Linked DNA regions of Homo sapiens: regions 1, 2, 3 and 4 are each linked to region 5. Evidence: fine-mapped expression QTL. A gene starts in region 5. Each other region holds a variant in brackets. All regions are shown on one strand. Distances are between the middles of the regions.

The links. PIP is the estimated chance that this variant, and not a neighbour inherited with it, causes the effect.
Region 1: its variant is fine-mapped to the expression of PCCA in monocytes (Quach 2016, PIP 0.95).
Region 2: its variant is fine-mapped to the expression of PCCA in lung (TOPMed, PIP above 0.99).
Region 3: its variant is fine-mapped to the expression of PCCA in whole blood (TOPMed, PIP 0.94).
Region 4: its variant is fine-mapped to the expression of PCCA in whole blood (TOPMed, PIP 0.96).

The regions. Positions count from the first base shown.
Region 1 is chr13:100,126,816-100,131,920 of GRCh38, forward strand. The region is part of intron 4 of PCCA (propionyl-CoA carboxylase subunit alpha); the gene reads left to right. Among named protein-coding and RNA genes, the nearest start is that of PCCA, 40 kb to the left of the region's middle. RefSeq lists enhancers at 2,271-2,771, 2,772-3,272. The variant A/G (reference allele first, on the strand shown) is at 2,579.
Region 2 is chr13:100,526,085-100,531,188 of GRCh38, forward strand. PCCA (propionyl-CoA carboxylase subunit alpha) reads left to right here. Exons shown (of 24, transcript NM_000282.4): 23 at 1,591-1,668; 24 at 4,014-4,351. The coding sequence ends at 4,082. It overlaps GGACT (gamma-glutamylamine cyclotransferase), which reads right to left. Exons shown (of 3, transcript NM_001195087.2): 3 at 4,096-5,104. Among named protein-coding and RNA genes, the nearest start is that of PCCA-AS1, 48 kb to the left of the region's middle. RefSeq lists an enhancer at 4,285-5,104. The variant G/A (reference allele first, on the strand shown) is at 3,190.
Region 3 is chr13:100,176,191-100,181,295 of GRCh38, forward strand. The region is part of intron 6 of PCCA (propionyl-CoA carboxylase subunit alpha); the gene reads left to right. Among named protein-coding and RNA genes, the nearest start is that of PCCA, 90 kb to the left of the region's middle. The variant A/T (reference allele first, on the strand shown) is at 3,195.
Region 4 is chr13:100,480,485-100,485,589 of GRCh38, forward strand. The region is part of intron 21 of PCCA (propionyl-CoA carboxylase subunit alpha); the gene reads left to right. It overlaps PCCA-AS1 (PCCA antisense RNA 1), which reads right to left and starts at 531. Exons shown (of 5, transcript NR_047686.1): 1 at 496-531. It overlaps LOC107984574 (a long non-coding RNA gene), which reads right to left and starts at 723. Exons shown (of 3, transcript XR_007063850.1): 1 at 636-723. The variant T/C (reference allele first, on the strand shown) is at 3,004.
Region 5 is chr13:100,086,077-100,091,181 of GRCh38, forward strand. PCCA (propionyl-CoA carboxylase subunit alpha) reads left to right here and starts at 3,017. Exons shown (of 24, transcript NM_000282.4): 1 at 3,017-3,149. The coding sequence starts at 3,045. PCCA-DT (PCCA divergent transcript) reads right to left here and starts at 2,867. Exons shown (of 2, transcript NR_132422.1): 1 at 2,557-2,867; 2 at 1-651. RefSeq lists enhancers at 2,547-2,596, 2,627-2,886 and a silencer at 3,167-3,346.

The DNA.
Region 1 (5,105 bases), 41 kb after region 5:
ACTGCCAAATTTAATAAAACTTTCTACCAAACTGTGACTTTCATGTATTAACTTAATTAAAGCAGTGTTATGGGTAATACTCAGTGTTAACCTGTGGATGGCTGTTATTGAAATCCATTATCAATGGAGTCAGTATTAGTGGTCAGCAGCATCAGAAGTAAAACTTGCAACCAAGACCCTCCCATGGGTGCTGTGAGCTCAGCAGGTTAAATTGTCAAAAACCAGTAAAGCTTCTTAAAGGACTGATAGCTTAAGCCACCCGGAGTTAAAGGTAAACTAGTCATTCCAGTCAAGATGGACTATGACTTTATTTAGCAGTCAGGCAAAAATTATATTTGGGCAGGATTTATATCAGTATCTTCATGTATGACTTATTCATTTGTATGTTCATGTACCTTGCTATTTAAATTCAATAAAACCATCCAGCTTTTTTTAATCTGTGGGAAGTGACTTGTGGATATTTTCTTTTATAAAACGTTAAGGAGATGTCTTAAGACTTTCTGAATTTTTTGTTAATAACTTATACTGAAGTTACTTTTTACTTATACTAAAATTTTAAATTAAGAAAAAAGTGAAATATTGTATTAATATATCTTTTTGGTTTTGTTTATTTTATAATTTCTGGTAAACTTAAACAACATGGTTTTAAAGGGAATTTATGTATTTCAGTGTAATTAGTACCTGCTGTTATGAAAAAGCACCTAATCATGGATTTATTTTTCTCTAAGCAGCTATTTGGGAAGGATCAGAAGTCCTATCTTACTGAAAAAGCATACATATAATAAAAGATTTGAGGGCCGGGCGTGGTGGCTCACGCCCGTAATCCCAGCACTTTGGGAGGCCGAGGCAGGCGGATCATGAGGTCAGGAGATCGAGACCATCCTGGCTAACACAGTGAAACCCCGTCTCTACTAAAAATACAAAAAGTTAGCCGGGCGTGGTGGTGGGTGCGTGTAGTCCCAGCTTCTCGGGAGGCTGAGGCAGGAGAATGGCGTGAACCTGAGAAGCAGAGCTTGCACTGAGCCGAGATCGCGCCACTGCACTTCAGCCTGGGCGACAGAGCTAGACTCCGTCTCAAAAAACAAAAAACAAAAAAAAAGATTTGATATACAGTTTACCTTATTCTATGTTCCAGTGTTTCTAAGGCCATGACTTAACTCATTTTTACAGCCTCCCTCATTCAGACTCCTTAGTGGAGGGAAAGGACATGATTATTCCAAATAATGCCTCTCACTCATTCAGAATCTATGGTGTACTGGAAAAGCACATAATTACATAAGGATTGAATTACTGTTACTGTTTTAAATTGAGAAAATTGGGGCTTCAAGTATAAAGCCAATCTTCGGGTTGCCAAAGATCACTGGGCTAGTAAGTAGTGGAGCTGAGATTCAAATTATGTGTAACTTCTAAGTTGTACTGTTTCCACTGTGCATGTTGCTTCTCATACTAAGTATGAGGAAAAGTCCCCTCCCACCACAAAACGAAGTGAAGTTTATTACTTTGAAGGCAGAGTTTTTATTAGTGCCTGTTGGAGGCTGGGTACTATGATAGGTACTGGAACTAGAAGAGTGACTGGAAGTGATAGGATTGCTGCTTTAGAGATGGGTATAGAGAAATAAAACATAAATAATTACAAATTGTGATAAGTGTTATGAGGGAAACAAGTTGTTGAGAGAGAATCATGGTTCCCTTCAGTAATAGGGTGCTCAGGGAAAGTCTTGCTGAGGGGTAAAATGTAAGCTGAGAATGATGGATGAGAAGGAGTCAGCCAGCTAGGCAGACAAGACCGCGTGCGCAAAGGCTCTGAGTCACCCCAGTCTGCTTCTGTCCTCAGTACTCTACTATAGAGTTCTTGCTAGTGTGACCACCAGTTTTCTCATGTTAAGTCCAGTGGACATTTTTCAGTCCTCTTCTGTTTGACTTCCCAGAATCTTTTAACACTATTACCCTTTTTCAGACACTCTCATCCTCTGGCTTTGGTGCCATTTTAATCTCCTAGTTTTCTCTCTACTTCTGTGGCCCTCCTCTGTGTCCCCTCTACAGGAATCACTCAAGGTTTGATTGGTGGGCTCTTCTTAAAATTGTTTTATTTTTTGTACTTTCTCTACCCTTACCCTGAAAGATGGCATTCTCTTCCACTTCTGTTTCTGTGGTTTTAATCAACCCTAGACTCCAACTCTGTTTTCTCTCTCTCTGTGACGTCTCTAGTTGAATGTTTTACCACTACCTCAAACCCAGCATTACCCAAACTGAACTTTGATCCTTCGGGCTTCTTGTATCTGAATCCTCCTGCAGAAGCACAAGATGTAGGAATTTATGTTCACCATCATTCTTTCTTTCATTTCTCATTTCCAATTTATGAGCAAGTCCTTTTCATAAATAATTTTGGAATCTAGTCACCTATCTTCACTTCGTTATTGCTTCTTTAGCAAGGTCTTTTAAAATCTTCTAGTGAATCTTTTAATCTTTTAGACTGATAAAATTAATTTCATCTGGGGCAGTTTATCTAATGTGAACTGTTTCAGTTTCTGAAGTTTTGTTTGATAGCGAATGCTTTCTTACTCTGTTTTGGAATTTT[A/G]GTTCATAGGCTCTTTTTTCTGGTGAAAGTTAAAAATGTTTATTGCTCTTCATGCTTCATCTTCTCCCTTCCCTTTGCTTCCTTGACCTTCCTCTTCCTCTCTCTTTCCTAGTTTCTCTCTCACCCCGGCCATTGCTGCCTCCCACCTTCTCCCTGACCAGTAGTTTTGTGGGTGCCCCCCCGCCGGCATTTTGGATTCCTAATCTACATCCAGGTCTTATGGTGATAGTTTGGACACATGGCAGATTAGTCCCAGCAGCTTGTTCAGATTTTGACCCTGAAGCTGTGGTTCTGCCTCCCTAGGTCCACAGTCTCCAGGAGTTGTAGTGAGCTGTAGTTGCAGACAATACTTGGTGGCCTCCTCTTCAGGCCAAGGGCAGTTCCTCTTTGGCCTGGTCTTCACCAGTGGCTCTGGCTCTCTTCTCAGTCTTGTGAGAACATTCTCGCCATCTGTACTTTGCATTTGGCACTTCCTGCTTCTGAGGAACCAGCCAGTGGTTAGCATTGTTATGCGTTTTTCTCCTGTTTTGAGTTTGTGAAATGTTTACCATTTATTTCTGCTTACCTGTTTTCTTAGTTTTCCTTTCTGGGTTTTATTGTCATTGTTGTACATTTGAAGTAGAGAGAGCTTTTGAAATATGAACTCACTGTGCCATCCTTTTTTTGTGCTAAATTTATTGAAGTCCACAAAAACCAGAGAAAAATGTCAGATCTCAAAATTGTGTTTTTGCTCAATTTCAAGCATCAATTTATCCAAGTTACCCACTTGATACCTGACTTGCCCTACTTAGCAAGTCGAGGCATTGTTTTGCTGGCTCTGGCACTCTGGCTATAGCCAGTCACTCACCCCACTTGGGATTGCTTCCTTTGCTGCTTGTTCCTGCTGCTGCTCAGTGGCAGCTGCCAAGTTGGAGTAGCAAAGGGAAAAGTTTAGTAGGCATCTTTTAGGAAGACAGAATGCTGTCTGGAGATGGCAGTGGTGGATTTATATCTGAGTCATTCATCTGAATTGGAACCTGTACAAAGGAAAAGAGGTTCTAGCTCAGATAAATAGATATAAATTCATTGTTGCTATCTTCAGGCATTCATTTATTTAATTAGATGCACTGAAAAGCACTCTCGAGGTGTGGGGACAGGGTGTGGTGTATCCAATGGAGAGTTTGTAGAAATTGTTAAGTTGAGGTACAACTGCTTATAAATAGTATTTGAAAATGTCTTATTTTGTAAACAACTGAGTATTTAGTTGATTGCAAATCTTCCTGTAAATCAATGATAGATTAGTTTAGTTTCCGGGTCTATAGTATATTCCTCAAATGGATAGTAGGTATTTTTGTAAAGGGGACTTTATAATTAAATATAGCAAAGTGTCTTCCGTGGACTGTATTAATTAAATGTTACAGATCCCCAGGCTGCACTGATGAAACTCAGCTGGGATGCTCTACATGTGATAGGGAAATTTGGTTTCAAAATTACACAACCTATTTGTGAAGGTTTCGTGTAATTTTTCTTTTCAGTAAGAAGTGTTTCCATGTATCAGTTTTTTTACATTTAAAAAAGTAATTTATTTTCAATTGTGGTAAAGTATACATAACATAAAAGTTTACCATTTTAACCATTTGTTATCAAAAGATGATGAGATCTGTGGAGGAAAAAATGGAGAGCTTTATTTTCTATAGAAAAAACTTGCAGACTGGGGAGGCATAGTTTTCACTAGTGAAAATGTTGCTCTAAAGAGAAAAAAAAAGGGGCTTGGCTTAAGTAGGGAAAGTTCTTGCCCTCATTCTCTGTGAGGTCTGTGCAAACGAAGGATTCAAGCTTGTTCGGTTCAGATTGAACCCTAATCTGGTGCCAGAAGTGTCTCTGTCAGATGTTCCTTCGAAAGGCTGGTGCAGGGGAGGTTTCTGCTGCAATTCTTCTTGGCCCCAGTCACAGGAACTGTTCTGGCTTAAGAACAGTTCTTAATCAAGAGCCGTGATTTCCAAGAACGAAGGGTGGTGACCACTCTTCTCTCACTCTGCTATGGCCGCTTGGACCCATTGTCTAAATGTGGGTATATTAGCCACAGGGAGTGCATCTCATCTGGAGAGCTTGCAGTTTTATTTACAATTTTATTTCACACATTTTTAAGCATACAGTTCAGTAACATTAAGCACATTCACATTGTTTTGCAGGATGAAAAGTTCTGGAAACGGGTGGTGGCGATGGTTTCGCATTATCAATTTTTACCTAGTATGCTTTTTTTTATACAGTGTTTTAAAGTGTTGGAAAAAACTTATGCCTTTACAGTATTTTATTATATTAGCTTATGTTCATTGTATGGGGTTGTAGGCAGTGACAGATACTCAACCTTTAACAAATACCGTTGAGCACTTGTTATGTGAAGATGCTCCACATCTTTTGAACTAGGCAGTTGTGGTTCCTGCACTCTTGTGGCTTCCAGTTCAGTGGAAGAAGCAGACATTTTATAATTACATACATTTATGACATTAGTGTAATGAAAAATTATAGGGTGTTTTGTAAGTGTGGA
Region 2 (5,104 bases), 440 kb after region 5:
GTGCTGCAGTGAACTGGACCTGCTCCTGGATTCCCTGGTCTTTGCCTGCCTTTGAAGAGAGAAAAAAGGCTGTAAAATGCCAACTGGAGGGAGTGACTGTTCTGACACCCCTGATGGGGGCCTCTGCATTGTCTCTGCGCTGCCCCTCCCATCCCCCTGCAAACAGCCCTCGAGGCTGATTCTTCGCTCTCCCTGGAATGCAGATGCCACGTGAAAATGAATCAAAAAGGGCAGCGCGGGCAGCGCTTCCAGGCCCAGCTCCTCAGCGCGGTGTCTCTCCTCCGTGCCAGCGCCAAAGCCTTGGCATCGTCTCTCTTCCTATATTTCTATGCCAGGAAGAAGCAGCCCACCACCTGAACAGCAGAGGAAAAGAGTACATCGGCTCAGGCGCTCCAGAGTGCCAGCAAGACAGCTTGCGCCACACGGGGGGGCCAGAGGGGGACTTGGAGATCATCTGGGGATTTCAGGAAAGAACATTCTCTAGGCGCTTCTGAGGCATTGGACGAATATGGCCACAGTGGTGTGAGGGGCCAGGAGCCCCATGCCAGGACACCCACCCACACCACATAGCCATTGCCCTAGGAACCTGGACTTGCCCGTTTCAAAGACTGGGAGGCCAAAGAAAAACCTGGCCGGCTCAGGACGCTGACCCATCGGGGCAGAGCGAAGTGAGTGCGCAGCATGGTTTTCAGCTGCAGCTCACTCCTGCAGGGAAGCCTCACGCTTAACGCCAGTGGGCTTAACCCAGCTCAGCCTGGCTGCCCCTCAGGATGAAAGGCAAGTTCTGAACGCAGTCTGAGCAAAGGCCCGTGGGCGCTCCCAGTCTCCTAGCATGGAATGCATGTAGCTCTGGAAGTCATTCCTGTGTCTGGAGGGTTTTCCGGAAGCTGCCTTGTGCCTTGTTGTGGGTACTCGCTGTGTCTTGCAGAGGATGGGACAGTGGTCCTCGTGGCGCCAGGGCCGAGCTGTTCCCAGTTCCCCGGGACTATAGACAGAAATATGTATATTTGGTGGTGGTTTTTTTTTTTTGGTAACAGCTATACTGAGATGTAATTCACATACAATTTAGCCCTTTAACGTGTACGATTCGGTGGTTTCAGTCAATTCAGAGTTGTGTAGTTGTCACCACAATCAATTTTGGAACATTTTTATCACTCTCAAAAGAAACCCTGTACCCTTCAGCAGTGACTCCCCTTCCCTCTTCAACCCCAGGCAACCTCGAGTCTGTCTGTAGAGATCTGCCTATTCTGGACATTTCAGGTAAGTGGAAAACATTCCAATTTCCGAACACCTCTGTTAGTGGCAGAGCCAGACTCAGAGATCCCCAGGGTAGGCCCCGCCGCCAGGGTCCCCACTTCTCCAGGGTCAGGGATTTTTTTTTTTTCCAACGAGGACTTTATGAGAGAGAGAATGGCTTTTCTCTACTGTTCCTAAAGATGAGCTTGGAATAGGAAACATTAGAGATTGTTGCTGCTGTTCATAGACACATATTTTGGGGCATTTGACAAAGAATTTCTTAATGGCTTCATTCCTAAGTGTTAATGCAAAATTAGAATGCTTTTAAAACTTCTGCCCATTTTTGTTTTCCAGGTAGCAGAAGGTCAAGAAATTTGTGTGATTGAAGCCATGAAAATGCAGAATAGTATGACAGCTGGGAAAACTGGCACGGTGAGTCCCTAAGTCCCCATCAGCCCAGGCCGGCCCTGTGATGGAGGAACGCCCACCTTTGAATCGTGGGTGGTTTGGCTGGAAAGGGCCACAGAGGCGCCCTCTCCCCCTCGCTTCTACAGAGGAGGACGTTAGGATTGGGAGCTTTTGCCATTCTGCCCTGATGCATCCCTGCCTCGTAGAGAGCGTGGCTTCCAAAAAGTCTGTGCTTTATGTTCAGGTAGTCAAAGAACAATTGTTCTTCACCTTAATGTCTTTCTTTCAAATTAAGGGGTCTTTAATTTTTAATGTTTACATCTGTCTTGAAGGCAGTTAGTTATCTGAGACTTAGGTGACACAGCAGCAAATGGTTTTACAAATTGCAAAAATTAATGTAACTCTTCAAGACAATTTCTCTACAAAGGGAACAATTCAGTTGCAGATCAAGAGAAGCCAAAACCCCATGTACATGTGGGACTTAATTATTTAGGGAGAAAAAAATATTAGTACTGAAATTCATTCATAGTGAAACTTAAGTGTATTTTTTTCTTGAAGATAGAAAAGTCCTTTTAAGCAGTAACTTCATTATTCTTCCTGTGACTAAAAAGACTGAAAAGATGCCGTTAGTAGGTAAATGATCCTTTTGTGAGGGCCGTTGTGGTTTGGAAGTGTCTGCATGGGAGAGCATGATGGGAAGCGCAAGGCTGGCCGTGTTCTGCATGTGGCCATGCCTTGGGGACATCAGGTGCAAAGAGAGATCCATCAGTTCATAACCAGGTTTGCATCAGAGAGACACACAACCTCTGTCTCATGCTCTGTCACTGCAGAAGGCAATGAAATGGATTCTCAGAGAAGGGGCAGCGGGGATGTCATGCCTGGTCCCGGCTGGGAGAACAGAGGCCCAGGTGTATGCCAGGGGCTCCTGAGCCCAGCCCGCCGGTCTGGAGGGGTGTGGACAGTTGCACTGTGCTGGTATGGTGTGAAGAGTAGAATGACATGATTTGTGGCGTTTTTAAGGAATTCTTTCTAAATTACTTCTTTAAAAAGTGAACAAGAAAATGTTGGTTTCTGTTCATGTAAAAATTTTATCTGTTCTTTGGGATTTAACATTTGTGCTGCCCTAGTATCACGACATCCATCCATGATGAGAACTTGGCCTAGGTGTGGGGGACCGAGAACGTGTGTCCGCCGCATGCCAAGGGCCCTGTGCGGCAGGTCTGAGGTGCTAATGCAGAAATGACCTTGGCCTCATCAGTTCCCTGAAGGGGCATGGTGCCATGTGGTAGTAGGTTTCCTGTCCTCGTGGCCTGGGTCTCCCTCGGCCCTCCTAGTTGGAGTCTTCCTGTGCATTCTGTTCACCTCACCCCATCCCCAGGCCTCTCAGTTCCAACCCAGCCAAGAAGAGCAGAAGTGGCCCGAAGCCCCCGTGCAAAGTAGCAGGCCCTGGTTCCTACCTGCGAGGCCACTTTTCCTCCCAGAGAAAAAAAGTTCACAAAGGAAACAGATCCTCTACTCTGGTCATCGCTGCATCACTAACACTGC[G/A]TCCTCTAGTAGGGCTGCTAAATGGAGGCAGGAGCATTGTGGAAAGCAGCCTTTTCAGTCCAAGCAGCATCTGCAGTGGCCGATGAGTTCTAATCCATTTTTCATTTTCAGGCCCAAGCAAGAGCCTCCAAGAAGTCAAATGACTGTCTCTTCCCCACCTCAAGCCCCTCCTTGCTAATTTTAAGTCAGAACACAAATTTCGGAAAGCAAAACTTGATAAAGATTGACTGAAACCGGTAGGACAAAAAGGCACAGTTCCACCCACCCATGGTGCTGGAAAGGGCGACCGCACAGCCCCACCTGCCAAGGACTCCATTTCCCTTCAGAAAATGGAGGTCAGGCCAGGGAGGTCCTCCTCTTACTCAGCAGCTGATCTGACTGTCGTGTGTTTTGTTCCTTTTTTTCTTTTACACTAAGTATTCCATTAATTCTCAGAGAACATTTCCACAACCTCAAAACCACAGAGAGGGAGGCTAGGGGTTAGAACTCACCTGGCAGTGAAGAGCCTGCCTAGACCTGAGGGTGCCAGAGCGCAGGCCACAGCGCAAATGCTCCGGAGAGTAGCCCTCAGGCCAGCCACTGTGAGGGTGCCGAGGACAGAGGAGACGGGAAAGGGGAGGAGTGAGCCACGGCCACGGCCACCATGGCGCCTCCCTGTTCACCAGGGTCCCTTCGATGGGCTCCGGTGGGGTGGGGTGGCTTGTCCCTGTGCTGCTGAGCTTGCAGGACTGTGCATTTTTAGAAATGGATTAGGAGCCTGCCGCCTCTTGGTTCTGGTTACTAATTCTTACTCTCCCCTCCCCCTGCATTTTTCAAAATTCAAGGTGAAATCTGTGCACTGTCAAGCTGGAGACACAGTTGGAGAAGGGGATCTGCTCGTGGAGCTGGAATGAAGGATTTATAACCTTTCAGTCATCACCCAATTTAATTAGCCATTTGCATGATGCTTTCACACACAATTGATTCAAGCATTATACAGGAACACCCCTGTGCAGCTACGTTTACGTCGTCATTTATTCCACAGAGTCAAGACCAATATTCTGCCAAAAAATCACCAATGGAAATTTTCATTGATATAAATACTTGTACATATGATTTGTACTTCTGCTGTGAGATTCCCTAGTGTCAAAATTAAATCAATAAAACTGAGCATTTGTCTAAATATTAGTTTGCCCTTTCTTTGAATGAAGACAATGTACACATAGGCGACAGGCTCTGCCAGTAGACTACCAGCATTTCTTTGTGATCCTTTTAAGAGATTGATATAAATGTCAGTCAGTTCTCTGCCTTGCTTTATTAAATTAGCACTTGCCATTTTTTCATCTGATTGCCTTACTACTTCTAGAAGTGAGGCCCTCACTCCTGGTGCTGATTTTCAAAACTTCCTAAGGACCAGAGACTGCAAATGCAGATTTTGGCAATCCCTTTCCTGCTGTGTCTCTATGTGGGTGTACTGTTGGTGGCTGACTCCCCTGGAGGTCACCCTGAAGCTTCCTGGTTGGCCGGGGGTGCTGTCTCCACTGTTTTTGTTTGTTTTGAGGATGAGCGCGCTGCCTGGTCCCTTCCCCATTGCACAAGCCAGGGCAGTCACAAGGAGCTTGGGCTGCCTCACCGCCCTCATCAAGCACAGGGCCGCCACGAGCTCATCAGCTGAGACCCAGCGTAGCCTTTTTGTGTTTTTTGTGAAGCAAGTTTCCAATTAAGCAAAAGAAGCTAAAAATAATGATCATGTTTTTGTGCCAGATGCAGTTAGCGATCACAGTCTGCCATTAAGTTGAAGAGTAAGTGAGCTCTCCCAACAGAGAATGAGGTTACTAAAGATCACAGCAGCTGCATTTTCATTTGGTTCTGAAATCCTTGGAATACATTTCAGACTTTGCTGGGAAGCAGAAGCAAGAGCCGTGCACCGAGTTGA
Region 3 (5,105 bases), 90 kb after region 5:
GTGGAGGCTGTGGTCAGTGTTGTTGGGGATAGAGACAGGACTCTGAAATTGTGGTGTTTGGGAAAATCCAGAAATTTTCTTTTTGTAGAAAAACTTCATATATTAAAATGAAGCATTTTTGGAACTTGGGATTTGATTACAAGTTACTTCATGCATAGATGGTGTAGCTTTAGAAAACTCAGGCCTAGCTGTTTTTAGAAGAAAATGTTATAATTCTTTATACATTTTAAGTTTAATTATTTACATGTGTATAAAAATTTGGGTTTATTGCAAGAAGGTACGTTTTGATATTGCTGTTTCTGTGTGTTTGTATGATACATCTACCCATGTATCTGTCTACTTATTTATCTTTGTGGTGCTAGTCAAAACTTGCAGCTTAAGAGAATTTGTTCAGAATTGGTGGTTAGAATCAAAAGTGAGTGAATTTATGACTTACATTATTGAAAAACATTGACAAATGTCAGGACTCAAGTCCGATTTTTATTATTTTACTGTAAATCCAGTTAGATGTGATTTAGCACTTGGATCATTTAAATATAAAGGCATGTTAGTCACAGTTTAAGTCTTTATATTAGTTTTTTTAATTAGGTAGAGTTTTAACAGAGGAGCAACATGGAAAATGTTTATGTGTATGAGGATAAAAATGCAAGTCTTGAGAATATTAGTTTAGTAATGTTCTGATTAGTGTTTGTAGCCTTTGTAAAAAATGTAAATTTACCTTCTAGATGACTACTTGAAACTGTTGTTTTTGGATGCTTGCCAGATAAAAGCCCTGTGGGATTAAGTTCTGGTAAATCGCTTGCAAATTTGTGAGGGATATCAGTGACTTTGAGTGTTTAACTGTCCAAGCTGTCATCTACATGCGTCCTATCACTGCATTGGGTGAAAAAATTAAGTTTCTCAGCCAGTTAGAATTAAAGGTGACATCTGCTTTTAATTGGTGTTTTATTTTCTTCCAAGTCAGTAAAAATTCAGTAAGACATGAATTATCAAATTTTGCAATGCTAAGCAACTTGTCAAGTGACAGTAAGCACTACCTTGAGCAGTTGTACAGATGGGAAGTGTTAAAATGTTGATTAATCTTCCAGAGTTCTGATTATGAGAAGACTAAAGCTTATATCATCATTGCCAGCTTTCTAGTGTCAGAGTAGTATTTATTTGTTAATTTTGTAGACCTTTTTCAATTACTGACAAATTGTGTCTTGCATAATGAAAATTTTACTAGTTTTAATAAGACTTGGTCTATTAGACTAAGGGTCATAGATGGCAATGTAGAATTCATGTTTCTGTTGTCTATTATTTAGTAAACATATTAGATTCTTTTTAGTAAAAAACTGAAAAAAATCTAAACGTGAGCTTTAAGTTTTATTCTGTTATACACATTCATCCTGTGTTGAGAAGGGAGTATCTGTTTGAATCTTGGCAAAGGAAGTCTTGCCTGGGCCCCCTGTTGAAAAAGAAAATGGATTATTTCTGTTTTTACCATTTATAAAACATTTTAAGATGTAAAACATAAGGACGAAAAAAATCATCACCTTCAAGTAGTCCATGTAAAAATAACTCAAGTCTTCAAACATTCTCAGAACTAAAAAAGACCAAAGAAAATATTCCCATCATACTGATTATGTTTCAATTTTCTAGTTACTAAAAATTAGAACATGGCACTAAGTAGACTATATAAAGTATGTCTTTAAAAATTCAACTGTGAAGGAGATCTTTTTTTTTTGATAATCATTAATATGAAAGTGAAGTTTCTCTTTTCCCTGTTATAACAGTTCTATGTAGTAGTAGAGGTAGAATTCTGAATTGAAGGTGGTTAGGACTTATAGCAACATTTCTGGGATGAGTTTTTCAGTATTCCCAGACTTCAATTTAATTCAGGGTTTCTTTTTTGCTCTCCACTTATGAATATGTGATAAATATTTTATGTAGTCGTGTACTTTTGCTATAGAAAATCAGTGGATTATTTAATTTGATTCAGGAAATCTACCCTGTATGGTTATTTCGATGTTGGGTAGATTTTATTTCAACTTAAAACGTAGAAAAGATGCTTAGGCAAATGATCTAATAGTTTTAGATACATTTGGTAACTTGTATCTTAAACCCCAGGGCCAAGTTTAGCAGTCTTACACATGTTTAGAAAATAGTTGAAAAATAGAAAATTTAGGTCTTTTTAGGTAAACTATACAAAACACTTTTATAGTCATTTTGATGCCTGATAACTTCAGGGTTCATTGCCCCTGTACATTTTTCAAATTATTTGCTTCTCAATCCATAAGGCTTTAATTTACCCCCTACTGACAAATCCCAAATGGGTTTTTAAGAATTTTGAGAGTGGTCTGCTGTAGTTGTGCTTCAGCACTGGCTTCAATTGCTGACACAGAATCTCTTAAGATGCACCAAATTTAGAAGGATAGGAGGTTCAGGCAGCATTTCCTCTGGCAAATACTAAGATTTTATTTGCGGAGGGTGGGGACGGAGATACAGAATTACTGTTTTCTGTAATATTTTTCTTTCTTTGATCCTGTTTTAATGCCTGTTTATTAAAAAAAAATAATTTAGACACAAGATTTAGCCACATTTTTTTAATTAATTAAAATGTGTGGGCCGGGCGCGGTGGCTCATGCCTGTAATCCCAGCACTTTGGGAGGCTGAGGCGGGCGGATCACAAGGTCAGGAGATCGAGACCATCTTGGCTAACACTGTGAAACCCCATCTCTACTAAAAATACAAAATATTAGCTGGGCGTGGTGGCAGGCGCCTGTAATCCCAGCTACTCGGGAGGCTGAGGCAGGAGAATGGCATGAACCCGGGAGGTGGAGCTTGCAGTGAGCCGAGATCGTGCCACTGCACTCCAGCCTGGGTGACAGAGCGAGACTCCTTCTCAAAAAAAAAAAAAAAATATATATATATATATATTTGTGCTTGTTTGGATGGGCTTTTTTAATCTTGAATTTTATAGAATAATAAAGTTAAGTATTTGTACCTTGACATACCCTAACACAATTAAGTATTGCTTCCATAAATAATTTTGATCTTATAATAAACATACCTTACATACTGACGAATAATATTAACACAAATGTATACTCCCTTAGAGGTGCTCAAAATGACTTTCATGCCACCCTTCATGCCTGCTGGGTTTTAAGGCATAAGAGAAACAGATGATTTCTGCATTTTACTGGAAAAAAAAG[A/T]CTAAAATGTACAGCTAGTATTGAATTGGGGTAATAATCTGCCACTTTTTTGCCCTTCAATGCTGTCGTGATCTTTTAGGGAAGTGAGGTCATGGTAGACCCGCTTGTTAATCATTTCTGCGTTTTCAGCTCAGTTTGGTCATGAATACTTGACTTGCTACCTATAGTCTTGCTTCTGTTTGCCTCTTTGCATGCAGCTCCTTAAATTGTTTAAATTACCATGCTTTCTTTATCATGTGATCCTGTCATCTATTGACAATTGATTGGATCAAGGATTAGTGCCTGACCCAAGGCAGACATCTACAGAAGGGTCATCCTCTTCCCACAATGGTTTATTTTCCTGTCTGTGTGTGTGTGTGTTTGTGTGTGTGTGTACGTGTGTGTGTGGTGGTCATGAATGGTGGTGGTGCCAAGAAGGTTGTGACATTTGACTAATAACTGATGATGAGAGAAGCAGCCAGCACTTGGAGATCTAGAGTAAGAGCTCTCCAGGCAGAGGGAATAGCAGGTTTAAATGTTCTGAGGCTGGAATGAGATTTGAGACATAGAATATAGAGATTGGATATAGAGAAAGGAACTGGTGTGGCAGGAGAATCATGAATGAGAAAACACGTGGTACAAGATGAGGTTGAAAGGGTAGGTGGCTCAGGGCAGATCAGTTAGGGTCATTCTAAGAAGCTGGGATTTAGGTCTGAGTGCATTGGGGAGCTGCTGGAGGAGTTTTAAGCATGTGGTGCACTTCTGTATCACTTCTGACCTAATGTGATGCACTTCTGTATCACTGTAACAACAGTGCATATCAGACTGAAGAACTATGTGATTAAGAACACTTTGCTACATAGGAGCAGAAAAATTTAAAGAAGAAACAGTGCCCTAGAAGAAGTTAAATTCTCTTGGGCATCCACCTGTAGACGTCCTCACTCCTTAATTTGTCCTGCTGTTCTTAGCATCATAGCTCTCTGTGAAAACAAAGCTATCTTCTAATTTATACTTTGCAAATCATTTGCTTTTCCGTAAACCCCATTCTTGCCTATTGGGGTTAATCTAATACCAAGATCCAAGATTCCTCTTCCCACAATGGTTTATTTTCCTCAGGCTGGATTATTCAGTATTGAAAAACAGCCCCATAAGACAACCCATGGGAACCATTGACCATTCAGGTCCTAAGAACAGTTAGAGTTAGGGGGTAGGTGTGGATACAGAGGTTGTATGTATGTGGTATTCCAGTTTAAGGTGGCCACTCTCTTCTGATTTCTTTCTCCTCTGATTTTGTCTCCTCCGATTTCTTTCCCCTGGTATTAATTACTAATACGCTTCTTTGACTTTCTGTCTGGCTAGTAGGTGAGGTTACGTTGCACAAATGCTTAAATGAATGCATGTATATTGGCATCCTTGTATATGGGCTTATGTTTGCACACAAATACTCAAATTCCAGTGAAGTTTGCTTTGCCAACATCCTTTCCACCACAGGTGATTTGTGGAAGCCAGTCAGGATCATTTTATCTTCCCTGACAATTATTGATTCAGGGATTAATCAAGGCTTAAGCCATTGTGGGCCACTGAAACATGATGAAAGGCTTTCCTGGGATTCCTGGAAAAGGAACCTCCTTATTCTTAAGAGAAAGACATTGGAAGCCAGGTTCTCTTGCATTCTCCCCCACCCACCACCTTGTGAATGAGAGAGCTTAGTTGCTGCTGGCAGCCATATTGTGACCATGAGGGTAGCTAGCCTGAGGGTAAAGCTGACTTACAGAATAAGGCAGATCTGAGAGAATGGCAGAGAAATCCAGAATTGGGAGATATATTTTTGGAAGAATTTCTGTCTAAAAGTGTTGGTGGGGTATGTGTTATGGCAAGAAGAGAGCTGGGATGTTTAATGGGTTAACAGCATTTTGTTCTTTATCATATATT
Region 4 (5,105 bases), 390 kb after region 5:
TGAAACTATTCAGCCATAGCCTGGTCTCTGCTTTCTTTTTACAAATGGGAGGTTGGCTAAGGCAGACACAGGGATGGCTAAGAGGGATAAAGGACGTGACTTCCATAGAACCTTTTGTTCCTAGAGGAACCTCTCCATGAAACACACAGTGAAACTAGATTAAACCAAAAAACGCCCTCAGCTCCAGCAGATCCTGAGCTACAAAGCACCTCTTCCCTACCGAGCCTTCTCACCCATGCGCACTGAGTTTCTGAGTATCAGAAAGTCAGGTTTCTGAATCCCTAGAGAAAGTAAAAATTTCCTTGGACACAATGGGTTTTCTTTGCTTCCTGCATGACAGTCACGAAGGGGAATCTGAAATAGAGAACTTGAATATGCGGCTTGCTGAAGGGAAGTGTACTGTACAGTAGCCCCCCTTCTCCACGGGGGATCCATGTCAAAATCCCCAGGGGATGCCTAAGACTGCGGATGGGACCGAACCCTGTATACGCTTGCCTTTAATGCCTTTTCCATTTCAGCTCGGCACTTAGCCCACACTGTGGCTGTAACTTTTGTAGTTTTAGGTACAGCAGCAAAACTAGCACAAATTTCTTTGTCCTTTTTCACAATTTCATGGATAGAAGATTGATTCTTACTGTAGATCTTAGCAATCTCAGCATACTTTTTTTTTTCTTGAGAACTTTCACCTTTTAACTAAAGGAAGGACTTCATGGCTGGTTTTTGGCATATCCAGATTGCCAGCATCATACTCTTGGAACTTTGAGGCCATTGTGAAGTCAAATAATAGTTCCTGCCAGGCACAGTGGCTCACACCTGTAATCCCAGCATTTTGGGAGTCCAAGGCAGGTGGATCACTTGAGCTCGGGAGTTTGAGACTAGCCTGGGCAACATGGCAAAACTCTGCCTCTACAAAAAACACAAAAATTCACCGGTCACGGTGGCACATACCTGTAGTCCCAGCTACTCGGCAGGCTGAGGTGGGAGCATGGCTTAAGCCCAGGAGGTGGAGGTTACAGCGAGCCAAGATCATGCCACTGCACTCCAGCCTGGGCGACAGAGCCAGCCTCTGTCTCAAAAATAAAAAAGGAACCTAAGCACTGAGACCCCCTGACAGTAGATCTGGTAACTGAGATGGCCACTAAGTGACTGGTTGGTGGTGGGGGTGTCTACAGCGTGGAGATGCTGGACCCCGAGAGAGAGGGTTTATGACCCAGGCAGGATGGAGCAGGACAGCACAAGATCTCCTCACACTACTCAGAATGACTCACAATTTAAAACTTATACATTGTTTATTTCTGGAATTTTCCATATAATGTTTCTGGACCATGGTTGACCACAGGTAAATGAAACCTTGGAAAGCTAAAACCTTGGATAAGGGGGGACTACTGTAATATAAAGTTTACAGTTCCTGGGGTGAAAGCTCAGGCAGACCCTATCTATGCATTATTACAACGTACCATCAATTCAAAACCATAAATTTGCAGAAACATCGTTGCTTTAATTCCTAAAATATTGAATATGAATAATAAAAATAATATATGCTTTGTCTTAGAAGCACCTTTTTAATATGATTGATGTGTATTGATCTGTTTCTTCATTCTAACATGAACATTTCTGTAACAGTCATTTCCCCTGAAATATCTAACCTGTGGGTACCTGAGACAGCTTGTCAGTTAGGAAGAACAGTGGTGGCGATAGCCACGTAGGGCTGGTTTGGTCGTGAGTGCAAGTGTGGTTGCAGCAGCTAGAGCAGAGGACTGTGTGGAGAACATGGGTCAGGTCAGAAGGCAGTAGCCAGGAGGGATGCAGAGTCGAGAGAGAATTTGTTGATTGGAATGACTCAGGTTGACTTTCAGGATGAAGAGAAGGGGCCAATAGAGAGGGAAGAGAGGACAGTTGATGAGGCAGGCTCCAAGAGAGGAGGGCAAAGCGAGATCAGGGGCTCCAGTGAAATGCCTGAGTGTGATGAGAAGAGCGCTGTCTTGTGAGGCTAGAGAGGGAACCAAGGATGGGTGGGCCTGGGAAGGCTGGAGAGGTAGCCTGTCAGGGAGCTGCTAACCCACTTAGAAATACTCTTATTGACATAACAAGGTTTTTTGTTTTGGTTTTTTGTTTGTTTGTTTTGAGAGAGCGTTCGCTCGTTCCCCAAGCTGAAATGCAATGGTGCAGTCTCAGCTCACTGAAACCTCCACCTCCTGGGTTCAAGCGATTCTCCTGCCTCAGCCTCCCGAGTTGCTGGGATTACAGGTGCATGCCACGGGTGCAGTGGCTCACGCCTGTAATCCCAGCACTTTGGGAGGTCGGGGCGGGCGGATCATTTGAGGTCAGGAGTTCAAGACCAGCCTGGCTAACATGGATATAACAAAATTTTCTATTTCAAAAGTTCAGTCGTGGGCACAAGTTGATTTTGCCTTACAGTCTTGATAGTGAAGGTGCATACTATTTTTAAAGCTGTATTCCTTAGATACTACCATATTATCTAATGTTTCTAATAATGGAATTAGCAAAAAATGACTACATCATCCAAATTTGACTTTGTACTAACATACTTGGCGTACTCCATATCCCTGAAGGTTAACAAGAGATAAATTTGGCCTAGACTGGTCTTTTCCTGAATTCATCACTTAAAAAAGGAAAAAAAGAATGGGGAGGAAAAGCCACGTTTTACTTTTATAATTTTTATTCCATCATTAAAAGTACAACTTGCTTTATGATCTGAAGAAATACCATCTAAGTCTTTCTATTAGGAACAAAAGTGAGCCTTTCAGGGAAAAAAAAAAAAGGAGCTGGGCTTAATCTGCATTAGCCCTTTGATGTATTCCCAGATTTTAAAAAGCTTCCCACTGTTCTCAGCCACGTTGAAACAGACCCAGCCATGTGTCCGGCGCTGTCCTTTTCTCCTCTCAGCACACACTTAGCCGGAGACACCTTTTGGCCAATGGGCCAGGATTCTTCCATTGCATCTTCAGCATGTGACCGTTTGTGCTGGCTCATTGGGAGTTC[T/C]GCTGCTCAGTACTCCTTCCCCAGGCAAAGACTCTTAAGTTAATAATTGGTTCAGAAGAATAAACTATACCGCCCTCTTGGTCTTCTTTTGGACATTTCTTTAAGATGAGGCTCTTACTGGTATATCTGGGGTACTTTATTGAGAAATAGAAAGTGCTAGCTGAAATAAGGCGTATCAGTCTAGAGTTAGGAAGTGAGAAATGCAATCGGTAAATTTTGCTTTTAAATAAAAATGGAAGCCCCATTTTAATTGTTGCCATTTCTAGTCATTTTATCATTTTTAACAGCCTGGTTTTCTATTTTAGAGAAGTTGCTGACCAATATTTAGAGAGCACCTCCCTAATCTGCACATCCTCTTGTGTGTGATGGTGAAGTGATGGGTTGGAATCGTTTTTAATGCTGTTTCCATTGATGGGACATTATTACCAGAAGGAGTGCTTTGTGCCAGCTGGTTTCATGGATGGAGGAAAACAATCTGGGTTTCAGTTTCACAAATAGAAAAACAAAACCTGAGAGGAAAAGGAAGTAATTCGTTAGCAGTGGCCACTGTGCAGAGTAGGATAACCTGCCTTCAAAGATTTTTGTTTCATGCACTATAATATAATGTTTAATAAATACTTTACTTCAAAGAACCTCACTACAAGAAAACTGGCCGCTTTCCTGCTATTCTTGTTCTCCGGCTCAGTATGACTATAAGTAGCTCATATCCGGTCCTCTGTGGTCTCAGGTGGTCGTTTGTGTTTATGATCCTTAAGCTGAAACTGTAAGGACTGTGTCCCTATTTTAAGTCTTTAGCAGATCCACCGTGTTCTGCAGGAATTGACAGAGGCTCTCGTGAAACCCTTGACACTTTGACCCATCTTGAGGAAAATGCTTAGATGCTAAAAGCAGTGTGCATAGGGATTACGTCCTCCAAAAATAGAAAACTCTAAATTTACTAAGCAGGGAGTAGAGAAACTCATCAGACTGCACCTCAAGTTTTTGATGTGTTCTGGTCGCCTCTGCACTCCCATTCTAGACTTCTAAACAACACGTTCAGGATCTCTGAGATAAAAGCTGGACTGAAGTTACAGAAAGAGCATTAGAGATGTTTGAATTTTTCTTTTTTCCCCCCTGTAGATATATTTGGCATATGTAGAATTTGAGAGTCCACTATTGATACCAGTTTCTTCCAGATATTAACACATATCAAATAGACAGCTAGAACTCAGAAGAAACTAATGGAGCTCTGAAAGAAACCATTGTTTTTTCCACTATAAATCTTAACTCAACAGCATTTAGGGTCTGGGTGGAGCCAGTCACCTGGGCAGCTGCTTCACACCCATTTTGAATTAGCTGCCCAGTGCTTCTGGTGAGCACCTCGGTAGGAGCCACTGCTGTGAACTCTTTTGCAAGTTCTGGTGGTGACTGGTTTGGTTTTTATTGCTCCCTGTTTGATGCACTGATAGGACCTAGGGCTGTTCTTAGAAATATAGGCCTGAGACGACTTAAATTTCACACTGGTTTTGTCTTCCGTTTCCACATTCCTCTCACTGACTCTCCCTCCCTTCCTGCCCTCTCTCTCTCTCTCATATGAAATGAGTTTAAAATCAGAGGGGAAGGATTGCTTTAATATTTAGCAGTCTAAACAGAGGGGGACAGGGCTGAAGAGGAGGAAGGGAGTGAATGGGTGTAGAAGAGAAAAGCTGTTCCCACCCCATTGCTTTAATGACAGTGGAAAGGGTGCATGGATTGGGCCTGTGTTTCTCTATCAGCTACTTTGTTCTTTAAAGCACTGGCTAGCTAAGCCATCTCTTTCTCTCCCATATTTTGCCTCTTTGAGTGTTTGCCTAGAACCACTTAGCTGTGGCAGCCCTGCTGATGGGGCAAGGTGCTCTGCAAGTTTCTAGGCAAGGTTTCTGGATCCATGTTGAAATTGAACGCAGATAGCACAACCATATTATAACAGCTACTTACAAACCAGTCAGCACATGTGTGGTGAGCATTTCTAGAGTTGAGTTATTGCTTAGGTCAATTGTAAGAGGAGTTTCTCTGAAAGAGTTCTGCTCTTTGAACTGGCAACCCCAACTCTAGAACTTACAGAATTGTTTTTGTTAATTTTT
Region 5 (5,105 bases):
TGCAGGATAGTGAGAAGGATCTGCTCTCCTTTGCTACTGGAGACCCAGGCTGCTTCTGTGTAGTGCCTAGAAAAGTCTCAGCAGCTGAGAGGTGAAAAGGTGTGGAGGATTGCATGGAAGGTTTTATAAGCCAAGCCCAGGGGCTGTTGAATTTCATGTCCTCTCATATTTTATTGGCCAGAAATCAGGTATAGTACCACATCGAACTGGAAAGGAGGCCAGGATATGCTGCCCAATAGGATGCTCCGAGCAGTGCACTCAGAAGAATGAACAGGTTTGGAGACAGTCCAAGTCTGCTGTGTCCTCAACTTCCTTGGGGGTATTTTCCTTACAATCTATAACTTTTTTTTTTTTTTTTTTGAGATGGAGTCTTGGTCTGTCGCCCAGGCTGGAGTGCAATGGTGCAGTCTCAGCTCACTGAAACCTCTGCCTCCCGGGTTCAAGTGATTCTCCTGCCTCAGCCTACCGAGTAGCTGGGATTACAGGGGCCTACCACCATGCCTGGCTAATGTTTGTATTTTTAGTAGAGATGGGGCTTCACCATGTTGGCCATGCTGGTCTCGAAGTGCTGACCTCGTGATCTGTCCGCCTCGGCCTCCCAAAGTGCTGGGATTATAGGCGTGAGCCACTGCTCCCGGCCACAATCTACAACTTCAAATGGAAAAGGCAAAGATAAATATTAGTCCTCTATCAGTAAGGACACACATGTAGCTGCTGTAACAAAGGCAAAACAAAAAAACACAATGCAATAACTTAAACAAGATACAGTATTTTTCTTGCTTGCATAAAAATCTGAACAAAGCACTCCAGGGTTGACGTGGCGGCTCCACAGAATCAGGCACTAAAGGCTCCTGGTATATTGTTTTGTCTCCCCGATCACCTAACTTCCTTCTTATCATCTGAGATGACAACTTTACCTCCACTGTAGTGTCCACATTCTGGCAAACTGGAAAGAGGAGAAGGGCAAGTGGAAAGCAAGCCTTTCCCTTTAAAGGTATAACCCAAAAGTTGTCTATGTCACTTGTGCTTATGTCCCATTGGCCAAAACTTAGTAACCAAATCTTGGTAAGCACCCTTGCTGCAGTGGGAGTTGGGAAATGTAGATCTTTGTTTAGGTAAGAAAGAAGAGGGCATGGAGGGCACAGTCCTTACATTCCAGACCTTAGTCATGGCGCTACACCTCGTTGTAAGGGAGGCTAGCTATTGCAGCCTTTCGCTGGGTGGCCATGTACCCAGCTAGATCTCAGGGGCACTCTTACTAAAGTAATGCATGGAGAATGGATAGCATGAGAAGCAGTTTCTGCTACAAGTGCCTTTCATAAAAAGAACTCCTATAAGAAAAACAAACAGGGCCTAAGGAAAACTAATCCAAAGGGTAAAACATGGGGAAAAGACAAAAAACAAAAGAAAAAAGAAAAGCAAGTTTCCCAGGTAGAAAATGAATGAAGACTGAGGTACATAAGTGAGAAGTCCTGTAAAATTGATAATCCTTTTCATTTTGTCACAAAAGTCCCTACTTACATTCTAAAATTCCATTAAATGTCACCTTTCTGATATCCCCATTTTATTTCTCTCTCTTTGGGCATTTACCATGCTGTAGTGTACTCTAGGCCATTCCTAGCTTTGTAACTCTCTCAAGGTGACTCTGCAGGAGATGCAAAGTAGTTAAGAGGAGAACCCCCAATACTGATGTGTTTATAGGTGAGGTGGTCTGATGTCTTAGATTTGCTTTAAAATATTCCTGCACAAAATAAAAAGGGGAATAGATGAAACAAGATTGACAAAATGTTGATTCATTGACGCGGTGTAATGGGTATCTGGGTGATCATAGTACAATTTTATCTCTTTTGTATATATTTTAAAATTTCCATAATATAGCAAAACATGAGCCCAGTCCCTCAAGGCAGCCAGATTTGGGTTCAAACCCTAGTTTGACCTTTTACTCGCTGAGTGACTTTACCCTGCTACAGCTTCAGTTTCTCCAAATGGAAATAATATATACTCCATTAAGGTTCTTGTAAACTCTCAAGTAAGAGGGAATCTGAGGCTCTAGCACACGGCCCGGCCCTTAATAGTTGTACTAATTTTTATTTTATTTTTCGAAACGGAGTTTGCTCTGTCACCCAGGCTGGAGTGTAGTGGCATGATCCGGCTCACTGCAACCTCCACCTCCAGGGTTCAAGCAATTCTCCTGCCTCAGCCTCCTCCCGAGTAACTGGGATTACAGGAGTGCGCCACCACGCCCAGCTAATTTTTGTATTTTTTAGTAGAGACGGGGTTTCGGCATGTTGTCCAGGCTGGTCTCCAACTCCTGACCTCAGGTTATCCTCCCGCCTCGGCCTCCCAGAGTGCTGGGATTACAGGCGTGAGCCACTGCGCCTGGCCAGTAGTTGTACTAACAAGGGTTTCTGCTTGCGAGCAACAAAGACTGACTCTAGTTGTGGCTAATTTCTTTCACACACACATATTAAGTGCCAGAGGTAGGACTTGAGCTCGGATCTCTGATTTCCAGACCTAGAACTTTTTATGTGTTATTACAGTCGTTAAAAACCTTACCTGGATTTGTGCTTTGCAATTTACGCTTTCGAACATGCAGGAATGTAGTTTGGGCATTTGTCTGGAACTTCGGATTCTCGGGACTCCAGGGTGGCCAAGGCGCGGAGGTGACTCAATGACATTGACCGGCCTGGATGCACGTGGGTTGCTGAGCCGATGCTGGGAAGGTACGGGGTTTGCCCGGTGCAGGCCGCCGGAACTCACGCACGCCCCTGTCTCTCTCACTCCTGGGGTCGGCTCTGGCCGGTGGCCTCCAGCTCAGCTAGCGGCCGGACGCGCAGCCCGCCGACTAGCCCTCCAGGTCCTAGCGCGACTCCCGGATCCCGGATCCGGCGGATCTGGCCGACCACTCACCCTCCCCTTTCCGCAAGTTAGGGGGCGGGGCATCGGGTTTCTGGCTCGTGATTTGCCGGAGCTCCTGCGCTCCCCTTCTCCACCCCCTCCGGCTGTGTGAGAGGTCAGCAGAGGGGCGGTCTGCGGGGACAACAATGGCGGGGTTCTGGGTCGGGACAGCACCGCTGGTCGCTGCCGGACGGCGTGGGCGGTGGCCGCCGCAGCAGCTGATGCTGAGCGCGGCGCTGCGGACCCTGAAGGTGAGGAGCAACGGGGCCTCGCGGGTCCGGGCTTCACTGGGCTTCTAGCCGTGCCGCCTCTGGGCGGCTGGCGCCGGGAGAGCGCTGGCTGGGTCCGGCTGCCCCCGCGCCCCGGTTCCGCATCAGCTACACCGCTTGCTTTCCTCCCTCCCGGAGTTCGCGTGGCAGCGGGCTCAGGAGGCATCCCTCGTTGCAGCTGTTCCTCGCGGGGATCCTGCGGAGCAGAGAGGCCTAGGGCAGAGGCAGTTGGGTGCCCGCACGCCCTCCGAGGCGGCTGATGGCTTTGGGCAGGCATATTGCTCGAGGTCTGCTTCCAGGGCCCCGCGGCATTGGCTTTGTCTTAAGCTTTCCAGGGTGTCTTTTTAGGTGTCCTTATAGTTTCCGTGTTCTGTTGCCTCTTTCCAGCATTTTTGAAGGGACACTGTGAACTGTTGCTTAAGTAGTGTTAGGGTTGTGAGTTTGTCTTATCTTTTAAAGTATTATACCATGTCAGGACTGCCAATAGATTTTACGTTTCATTTGAAAGCCTGTTTTAATTGTATGACACCCCAGTCTACTGTGTACCAAATGCATCCCGTGAACTTACTTTCCTTTTCGGTATAGTGGTGAGCCTGATTTTGGCACTGTTCTAAACACATTTCATGACTGTTCTGTATACCTAGGCTGTCATGATGGCAGATTGACAAACAGGTTGGAGTGCTTGTGTGTGCTTCTGAGCTCTGTCTCCAGTCAATGTCGAGTCTGTCGTTAATTCTGGGGCACAGACCACCTAACCTACTTTATAAGGTTTGTTGAGGCACTTGAACACATTCTTTAAAATGAAGGTCCCCTGAAAACCATCTGTCAGCTGGTTCAGTGTGCTTGTTAAACTTCCTTTTAAAAAATAATTATTAAAACATTGCCACATAACTTGATTTATAGTCATTTAATTTTAGACGTTGAAGACACTTTAGAGACGACCTGCCCCATCCTACTCTTTAAAGAGGAGGGAACCGAGCCCCAGGTGGGCAGTATGAGAGCTGGAGCTTATCGACATGGAAGTGAGTGGCACCTATGTTTGTTTTGTGTCCAATTCAGCGTGCGGACTTTCACTGTTTTCTGTGTTCCCATACAGTTTAGTGTTCTTTAATCTTTATCATTCTGTTCATCTGTGTTGGCCACTTCAATTGCAGCTGTAAGACTTATGCATTTACATAGGAGGCAAGTTAGTATGGTGTAAAGTGTGGGCTTTGGGGTCAGGCGCATGAGGCTTTGTATATTGGACAGGTCTCTTCCTTGGGCGTCAGCTTCGTCCTTGTAGCTATTTTTTTCAACAAATATTTACTGAATATCTCCTGTCTTCCACTTCTGGGGAATGAATATGGTTTCTGCTTTCTTAGAAATTTTACTCTAGTAGGGAGACTGTAACAAGTGTAAAATGGTATTAGGGGAGATGCCCGGGTGCTATAAGAAAATAAAATAGAGGGATTTGACCAAGCCAAGATTTTGAATTCTGTGTTCTAGATACTGTTCTGTTGCTTTGCTTGAACTAATTTATTCAATCTCACAACAGTCGTATGTCCCCCATTTACAGAAGATGAAAGTGAGGCACTGAGTGTTAATGTGACTTGCTCGAAGCTATAGTGCCAATAAGTGGCAAACAGGATTTAGAACTCCAGAACCTGTGCTCTTAATCATACTATGCTATCTACGGTAAGGGAGTGTTTTCCTTTGGAACTGAAAATTGAGACAAGTTTTGAAGGATGAAGTGACCTTTTCTAACAAACAGAGATGAATGTTATAGGTGAGAGAGCAGTGTATGCAAAGGTCCTGTGGCCAGAGGGAATGACAGGTTAGAAGAACTGAAAAAAGCCTACAGAGGCTCTGATGCAGAGAGTAGATGGTGTTGGGGAAGCTGGCAGGAGTCAGACCATCTGGCTCTTATAGATCACATTATGAGGTTTGGTGTTTGTCTTA